Linked DNA regions of Homo sapiens: region 1 is linked to region 2. The links come from fine-mapping of genetic effects on gene expression. A gene starts in region 2. The other region holds a variant in brackets. All regions are shown on one strand. Distances are from middle to middle.

What was found. PIP is the estimated chance that this variant, and not a neighbour inherited with it, causes the effect. A credible set is the group of variants that fine-mapping cannot tell apart.
Region 1: its variant is the best candidate, but not a certain one, in a credible set for the expression of NTN5 in whole blood (TOPMed, PIP 0.89).

What each region holds. Positions count from the first base shown.
Region 1 is chr19:48,691,410-48,695,790 of GRCh38, reverse strand. No RefSeq gene overlaps it. Among named protein-coding and RNA genes, the nearest start is that of FUT2, 2.4 kb to the left of the region's middle. RefSeq lists an enhancer at 1-549. The variant C/T (reference allele first, on the strand shown) is at 2,326.
Region 2 is chr19:48,671,160-48,675,471 of GRCh38, reverse strand. It overlaps NTN5 (netrin 5), which reads left to right and starts at 2,455. Exons shown (of 7, transcript NM_145807.4): 1 at 2,455-2,540. It overlaps LOC105372431 (a long non-coding RNA gene), which reads left to right. Exons shown (of 3, transcript XR_936016.3): 2 at 1-231; 3 at 1,685-2,326. It also overlaps the pseudogene SEC1P. RefSeq lists enhancers at 1-249, 250-898.

The DNA of each region.
Region 1 (4,381 bases), 20 kb before region 2:
GAGAGGCAGGACAAGGTCGCATCCCCCATCCGGGTCCCCGAGGGTCTTCCTTGGGGAACTGTTGTGATGCCCCAACAGAAAGGGGCCCCCACTCTGCTCCGCTCCTCCAGGCAGCCAGGAAGGCCTCCAGGAAGGCAGCATGGAGGCGGGGGACAGAGTCCTGCTAGGCCAGGCTCTCGCTGACTCTGAGTCCCCTCAGAGTCTTATATTTATTTATTAATTAATTATTAGTAGTATTACTTTTTGAGAGAGTTTTGCTCTTGTTGCCCAGGCTGGAGTGCAATGGCGTGATCTCAGCTCACTGCAACCGCCGCCTCACAAGTTCAAGGGATTCTCCTGCCTCAGCTTCCCAAAGTGCTGGGATTACAGACGTGAGCCACCTCGCCCTGCCTATTTCAAAAAAATTTTTAAATACAAATGGGCCCGGTGTGGTGACTCACACCTGTAATTCTAGCACTTTGGGAGGCCGAGGCAGGCGGATCAACTGAGGTCAGGAGTCAGAGACCAGCCTGGCCAACAAGGTGAAACCCCGTCCTTATAAGAATACAGAAATTAGCCATGGCCCAGCACAGTGGCTCATGCCTGTAATCCCAGCACTTTGGGAGGCCGAGGCAGGTGGATCACCTGAGGTCAGGAGTTTGAGACCAGTCTGGCCAACATGGTGAAACCCTGTCTCTACTAAAAATGCAAAAATCAGTGGGGCGTGGTGGCATGCACCTGTAATCCCAGCTACTTGGGAGGCTGAGGCAGGAGAATCGCTTGAACTTGGGAGGCGGAGGTTGCAGTAAACTGAGATTACACCATTGCACTCCAGCCTGGGAAACAAGAGCAAAACTCTGTCTCAAAAAAAAAAAAGATGGATGAGGAATTTTACTGAGAGAAGAGGCAGGCACCACCAGAGCTCCCAGCAGTCCTAACAGGAGGAAAGAGAAACCAGCAGCCACTCCCCAGCTTCAGCTAAGCAGCAGGAGGCTACCTACCAGCTACGGAGCTCCCTTCAAACAAACAAACAAAAAAATCAGATCAAGCTTCCCACTCTAACCACCAGTTTGCAGAAAACAGGAGGACAAAGTTCCCAGTGAAACGACACCATGAGGCAGCAATCAGCCCAGTCCAGAATGTGAGCCCGTCCACAGGACAAACGACCTGTTTCCCTGTGATTCAGCGACAAGGAAAAAAGAAACAGGGTGGGGCGGGGAAGTGGGGAGGTGAGCTGTCATAAAATATGCAAAACAGGCCAGGTGTGGTGGCTCACGCCTGTAATCCCAGCACTTTGGGAGGCTGAGTCGGGCGGATCACGAGGTCAGGAGATTGAGACCATCCTGGCTAATACAGTGAAACCCCGTCTCTACTAAAAATATATATAAAAAAAAAATTAGCCGGGCGTGGTGGTGGGTGCCTGTAGTCCCAGCTACTTGGGAGGCTGAGGCAGGAGAATGGCGTGAACCCCGGGGGCGGAGCTTGCAGTGAGCCGAGGTCACACCACTGCACTCCAGCCTGGGCGACAGAGCAAGACTCCCTCTCAAAAAAAAAAAAAAAAAAAAAACGCAAAACAGATTTGGGGCTCAGAGGCTTAGACTTTCCAACTCCATGAATGTCCCACAGATGTTCCAAAGTCATGGGAATGACCTGGGCGCAGTGGCTCATGCCTGCAATCCCAGCACTTTGGGAGGCCGAGGCAGGAGGATCACCTGAGGTCAGGAGTTTGAGACCAGCCTAGCCAACATTTTTTTTTAGTGAAACTCCATCTCTACTAAAAATACAAAATTAGCTGGGCATGGTGGTGCACGCCTGTAATCCCAGCTACTCAGGAGGCTAGGGGAGGAGAATTCCTTGAACCTGGGAGGCAGAGGTTGCAGTGAGCCGAGATGGTACCACTGCACTCCAGCCTGGGTGACAGAGCAAGACTCTGTCTCAAAAATAAAACAAAGTCCTGAGAATGCAGGACAAACCTTCATTGCGTAACTTTTATTGTCGCTGACCCCAGCCGCGTAAACGCTGTGGTAGCATCCTAGGACCTCCACTGTGACAACTAAAAACAACCCCCACAGATTCCCATAACTCCCCCAGGGGGACAGCACTCCGGAATTCAGGACTGTTGCCCTAAACCCTCTGTTTTCCATTTCAGCTTTCCCTTACTGGTGCACGCCCCCATGCTTGGCCACCACGGCCAATTTCAAGCTACCAATAAGAGATCATTGAACATGGAATTGGAAAGAAACGCACAGTAATACATTGTTCTATAGTAAGTCTTCTTACTATGGTAAACACTTACCAGCCAGTTCTCTGGAGAAAAAAACACACTGTATGTTAGTATCTGCCAAT[C/T]TGTGTGCCAATCAATGTATGTGCTCACTGCAACCTCCGCCTCCTGGGCTCAAATGAGTCTCCTGCCTTGGCCTCCTGAGTAGCTGGGACTACAGGTGCCCGTCACCACACTCAGTTAATTTTGTGTTTTTTTGTAGAGATGGGGTCTCACTATGTTACCCAGGCTGGCCTCGAACTCCTGAGCTCAAAGCGATCCTCCTGCCTCAGCCTCCCAAAGTGCTGGGATTACAGGTATGAACCATCTTGCCTGGCCTATTTACATTTATTATGTCTGTGTAATAGGCTTGCTATAGAACAATGTAATACTGTGCATTTCTTTCCAATTGCATGTTCAATGATCTCATATTGGTAGCTTGAAATTGGCCGTGGTGGCCAGGCATGGAGGCATGCACCTGTAATCTCAGCTACTCAGGAGGCTGAGGCAGGAGCATAGCTTGAAGCCAGAAGTTAAAGACCAGCCTGGGCAACATAGCAAGACCTTGTCTCTCTACAAAAAATAAAGAAAATTAGCCAGACATGGTGGCACATGTCTGTAGTCCCAGCTACTTGAGAGGCTGAGGCAAGAGGAGCCCAGGAGGTCCAGCGTCAGCTATGATCCTGACGCTGCACTCCAGCCTGAGTGACAGAGAAAGACCCTGCCTCTGAAAAATTAAAAAATAAATCTGGGCACAGTTGTTCACGCCTGTAATCTCAGCACTTTGGGAAGCTGAGGCAGGCAGATTGCTTGAGACCGGGAGTTCGAGACCAGCCTGGCTAACATGCTGTAACCCAGTCTCTACTAAAAATACAAAAATTACCTGGGTGTGGTGGTGCACACCTGTAGTCCCAGCTACTCGGGAAGCTGAGGCATGAGAATTGCTTGAACCTGGGAGGTGGAGGTTGCAGTGAGCTGAGATCACGCCACTGCACTCCAGCCTGGGTGACAGAACGAGACTCCATCTCAAGAAAAAAATAAGAAAAGTTTTTTTAAACACAAGTGTGTGAGGGTGGCTGTCCAGGGACACAAGGACACCGAAGAATGGTGATCAGTGCTTCCAGTATGGGGAAAAGTGGAACTCATTTATACAGGTAAAAATGGAGAGGTCAAACGCAGTGGCTAATGCCTGTAATCCCAGCACTTTGGGAGGCCAAGGCAGGTAGATCGTTTGAGGTCACGAGTTTGAGACCAGCCTGGTCAACATAGTGAAGCCCTGTCTCTACTAAAAAAAAAAAAATACAAAAATTAGCTGGCTGTGTGGTGGTGAGCACCTGTAATCTCAGCTACCTGGGAGGCTGAGGCAGAAGAATTGCTTGAACCTGGGAGGCAGAGGCGGGGTGGGGTGGAGGTTTCAGTGTTCCGAGATCGCACCACTGCACTCCAGCCTGGGCAAAAGAGCAAGACTCTGTCTAAAACAAACAAACAAACAAAACAAACAAAAAACCAACAACAACAACAACAAAAAATGGAGATCGTGAGCAGAATGACAGCATTTTGCATACAAAGGCTAACATACAGTTATAAGATTAGATTGACAGTTATAAAAGATTAGATTAGGTGCAGTGGCTCACACCTGTAATCCCAGCACTTTGAGAGGGTGGCGGGCTGATCATGAGGTCAGGAGTTTGAGAACAGCCTGGCCAACCCTGGTGAAATCCTGTCTCTACTAGATACAAAAAATTAGCCGGGCATGGTGGCTGTGCCTGTAATCCCAGCTACTCGGGAGGCTGAAGCAGAATTGCTTGAACCTGGGAGGCAGAGGTTGCACTGAGCCAATATCGTGCCATTGCACTCCAGCCTGGGTGACAGGGTGAGACTCCATCTCAAAAAACAAAACGAAAAAAAGGCCGGGCACGGTGGCTCACGCCTATAATCCCACCCAGCACTTTGGGAGGCTGAGGTGGGCGGATCATGAGGTCAAGAGATCGAGACCGTCGTGGCTAACATGGTGAAACCCCCATCTCTACTAAAAATTTAAAAAAAATTTTTTTAAATTAGCTGGGCATGGTGGCGGGCACCTGTAGTCCCAGCTACTCGGGAGGCTGAGGCAGGAGAATGGCGTGAACCCGGGAGGCAGAG
Region 2 (4,312 bases):
GGGGCTGGCTGTCCTGGTCCGCGATTCCTTGTCAGCCATTTTCCTCAGGGGGAGCGGCAAACGCCAACCTGGACTGAACTCATCTGGGGACAACCCTGGCTTGGAGGAGGGTCATGTGGCTATTTGCAGACTTTACTTCTCTTACTGTGAACACCCATGTGCTCTGCTGCCTAAAACATAACATGTTTGACAATGTGATGCGGCCCAGACCTACCATGGATGCCATGTCACGTACGTACTATGCATCCGACAACAGGGCCAGGAAGCAGAAGGTTCCGGAACACGACTTTCCCAGAGAGCTCAGATAAGAACCCGTGGGCATGTCAGCTCATTCAGTCCTCATGACCCCCTCCGCCCACCATGAGGAAGGTCCATTCTTTCTTCCTCATTTAACAGATGAGGAAATGAAGGCACAGAGAGGTTAAGAAGCTTGTTCTCGGTCACACAGCTAGGACAGAGGTGGATTTGAACCCAGGCAGTATGGCTGGGGTTACCATCCTGGCCTTTTTGAACATGTCCGGGAGGGCAGGCCCTACCCAGCCACACAATGCCCAGTAACTCCTGCGGGTGACCTGCCCTGCCTCGTGGAGACTCCGTTATATCTGGGCCACCAAGGCAGGGGTTAGAGGTCTGTGTGAGCCCAGCACTGAGGTTCTCTCTGGGTTGAACCCACCTCAGAGATGTGCCTTGGGCAGGCCTGGCCTTCTGTAGAAGCTGTGAGGGTGAAGGTCTCCAGCCCTTAAAGAACTCTCCCCAACAAAAAAAACAGTCTCCTTCCCAGCTTGGGGCACTATGTGCTCGGCTGTGGCAGCTCCGTCTGTTCTTCCCCGCCTGCCCCCGGGCACCCGCAGGGGCGCCCATCAACTCAGGCAGCTCAAGCTGCAAGGAACAAAAGCTTCCCTCCAGGAGCCGGAGCTTGAGACTTCGCCCAGGTGGGGAGGAAGACGCAGCGAGACCTAAGCCTTCTTCCTCAGTTTTGTGTGGCAGCAAAGCTGGGTTCTGTGCTGGCGGTGGGCTCAGCACAAATGCCCCTCCGCATCACCCCACTTACATCTGCAATCCCCGGGCCCCCGTGGCCGCCCCCCCCACTTGCTTTGCTCCAAGGCACTTGGCACCTTCCAACAACCTAGAGCACAGAAGGACCTGCGCTGCTGGGGTCTCCCCCTCCCTCTCTGGACACTGAGCCTGATGGGGCAGGGGTCTGTGTTCCCAGCGCGAACCCCCGGCAAAGTCCCATACAGGGGGAGCTCAGGCAGGGTCAGCGGAGGGACCTGCGCCTGAATCCCGAAGTTCCACTCTGACTCACACAGCCTGGGCCCCCAGCTCTGACATGCCCCCTCTGATGGGGGGCGTCTCAGCCCCATTCCATCCTCCTGCAGCTGATGCACCTCCCAGCTTTCGGAGTGACTCCCTTCTTTCAAATCCGATGTCCCTGTCCTGCTCCTGCCAAATCTGGCCCCCTCCAACGTGGTACCTAAGGGTCCAGAGTCGAGGGTCGCCTTTGCTGTGCCCTCGCACCCCCTGGGGGCGGGCCTGGGGCAGTGGGTCCCAAGCCTGTCAGGATTGGGCCCACGCTACACCACGATAAACGCTGGGGCCACCCAGGGCAGCAGGTGCCGCGCCCCAACTCCATGAGGCCCTTGCTTTTCTCAGCGGGAAGTGACAGAAAACATTATTTTTCTAGTCAACCCATTCGGAGATGGAATAGAACAGACAGCAACATTCGCATGAAAATGTCACGATGAAAGCACTGAGGACTCGCAGGACACCAGCGGCACTGGGGAGGTGCTTTTGAGCTTGGTCCCCCGCACCCCGGGGGTCCCCGCCTTCTCCCTCTGCCGCATGAGAAACACTGGGGCCCAGGTGTTCTCAGCTCATTTGTCGCCTTCCCCACCATCTTAGAAAGCGACTGAGGTCTTTTGAATTCCAGGGGCTGGTCTGAACCTTCCAAGAGCACAGATTTTACTGACCTTAAGGCTCGGTGAACCCACAGCTGACAAAAGGTTCCAGAGAGGAGGAGGAGGGGCTGGCTTGGGGTCACGCAGCCAGAGGCAGGGGCTGAGCAAAGTTTCCAACAGCGATTGTCTCCCAAAGGTCAGCCCCTGCCCGATCGCGATGGCGGCCACCACAAGGCGGGGCTGAGCCAGTGGGCAGGGGTGGAGTGGGATGGAGCGGGACCCCCGACTGACAGCCTCCCGTCCTACCTGCGGTGAGCCTCCTAGGCCAGGCTGCTCGGGGCTGTCCTGCTGCTGGACCGCCGGGGGCAACGGCACTCACGTCCCACACCGTTGCGGGTGGCCTGGCTGGCAGGGGTCCCTGTGGGGATAGCGTGGCTGCGGTTGGTGAGGGATTGGGGTGGGAGGGGGGTGGCGGTGTTAGATTCTGCGGGCTCTGCTCTGAGCCCCCGCCCAGCCCAGAAACCCCACTAGCCTGGGGCCTGAGAACAGCCACGCCACTCCCTCCTGAGAGCCCACCGCGCCACAGCTTGGAGGAAGAGCCTGCGGGGAACTGGCTGCAGGACGCTCTCTTCTTGAGTGCAGGTTTGGCCAATGTCGGGGCCTCAGGGCTCGGGTTGGGGGGTGCATGCCAAGAGCCAGGGAAAGGAAGCCTGGGTCCCAGATGGACCCCAGGCCGCCCAGGCAGGCCTCCTATGAGTCTGCTGGGAGCATGGCTGGACTCTTTCTTAAAGAGGGGTATGGGCTCTCTGTGGGCCACGACTGGTTTCTGGATCCCCCAGGAACACTAGGGAACTCACAGCCTGGTTCCTCAAGGTGCTAAGGGCCAGAGGGTGCCACCCCCTGAACTATCCAGCAACTATCCAGAGAGAAAGGGGACATGGGGGACTGGCCCTTAACAGGATGCTGCTGAGGGCCAGGCAGGCGGCTGCCACCTGAGTGGGTGCAAAATGGCGCCAGGCTCCTTGGGAGGGCGGAGGGCGAGGCCTGTCATCTGGGCCAGGGGAGGCAGCGTCTGCATGTGGCCAACAGCAGTGGGGACATGGGCAGTGAGGCCAGGCTGGGGCAGGTGTGGCCCACCTCAACCGCCAGGGTGCCCCAGAGATGCCCAGCCCAGGGACATTCCTGGGCGCAGATTCAGAGCCAAGGGCCTGGAAAGGCTCCGAGGCCCCCAGTCCACAGTGAGCTCCTCACCAGAGGCTGCTGGCCCTGGAAGGGGAAAGTGGGGGCATTTCAGAGTCCAGTCCTTCCCAGCTCCTGCCATTCCTAGGGTCTGGGCTTCTGCCCCCACGGGCGCCCTGGCATCTGGCACCCCACCCTGTCCCAGCTCCTGCCTTCCTGCCTCTCTCCTCCTCATTACCCACCGCCCCCAACATCTGTTCCCCCATCTGCTCTGGGGAACTCTGGATGGGTGGAGAATGTGGGGACTCTGGTCTCCAGGCCCTGAGGCCCAGAATAGAGGGCAGGGTTGAGGTGAGCAGAAAGTCCCAGAACGCTAACTTCCGGTCCCCACACCCTGAGTTCTGAAGGGAACCCAGGTGTCTGCTTCCCCTGACCCCATGGGGATCCCACTGTCCCGCTCCCAAGCCCCAGAGCCACCCAGGTTCCAGCTCCCAGCATCCCTTTCCTCAGCTCAGCTCTCTGGGCTTTGCACTCGGGTGGGAAAGGGTTAAGGGTGGGGCGCTGGGGGTGGGTGGGCGGGTGGCAGGGAGGCTGGGTTGTTTGGTGATAATCCCCTTCCGTGCCCAGGGTGTGGAGAACAAGGTTAGGGCCCCATGTGGGAAAGGCAATGGCTCTGATCCCTGCAGGCCTGGGCCTCGGTCTCTCACTTCTGATCCCCCGCCAGACACCCCTAGCCTGTCCCCTTCCCTCCCCTCCCCAGGGCCTGCCAGGCTGGGTGTCTCTGAGCCCACCTGCCCACCTATCCCAGCCCCCAGGCAGTCCGAGCCTCAGTCTCCCAGCTCCCTGTGGCCTCTGGGTGCCTGGCCTCTGTCTCAGCCTCTCAGCCTCCTGTCTGTTCCTCTGTCTTTGCAGCAACTTCTCTGTGCCGAGCGCCTCCCCTAGGCTGACTGTCCTCTCTCTGCCTCTGTCCTGTCCTCTATTTCTTTGTGACTGAGTCTTCATCTGTCCCTAAGCCCCCTCTCCTGCCCAGCCCTGCTTGTCTCTGTGTCCCTCTCTAGGTTTCCACGTCTGCTGGCCTTGGCCAGCCCCTCTGCTCCAGCCGCTCACCGCTCCCCAGGGCCCCCTGCCCCTCGACACTGACGGATAACTCTGGGGTGTTAAGCTACGGATTAGTTCAGGCAAAATTCTCGATTTTGTCTGCGTTCTTTCCCCTTTGGGTTATGTAAACAGTAATT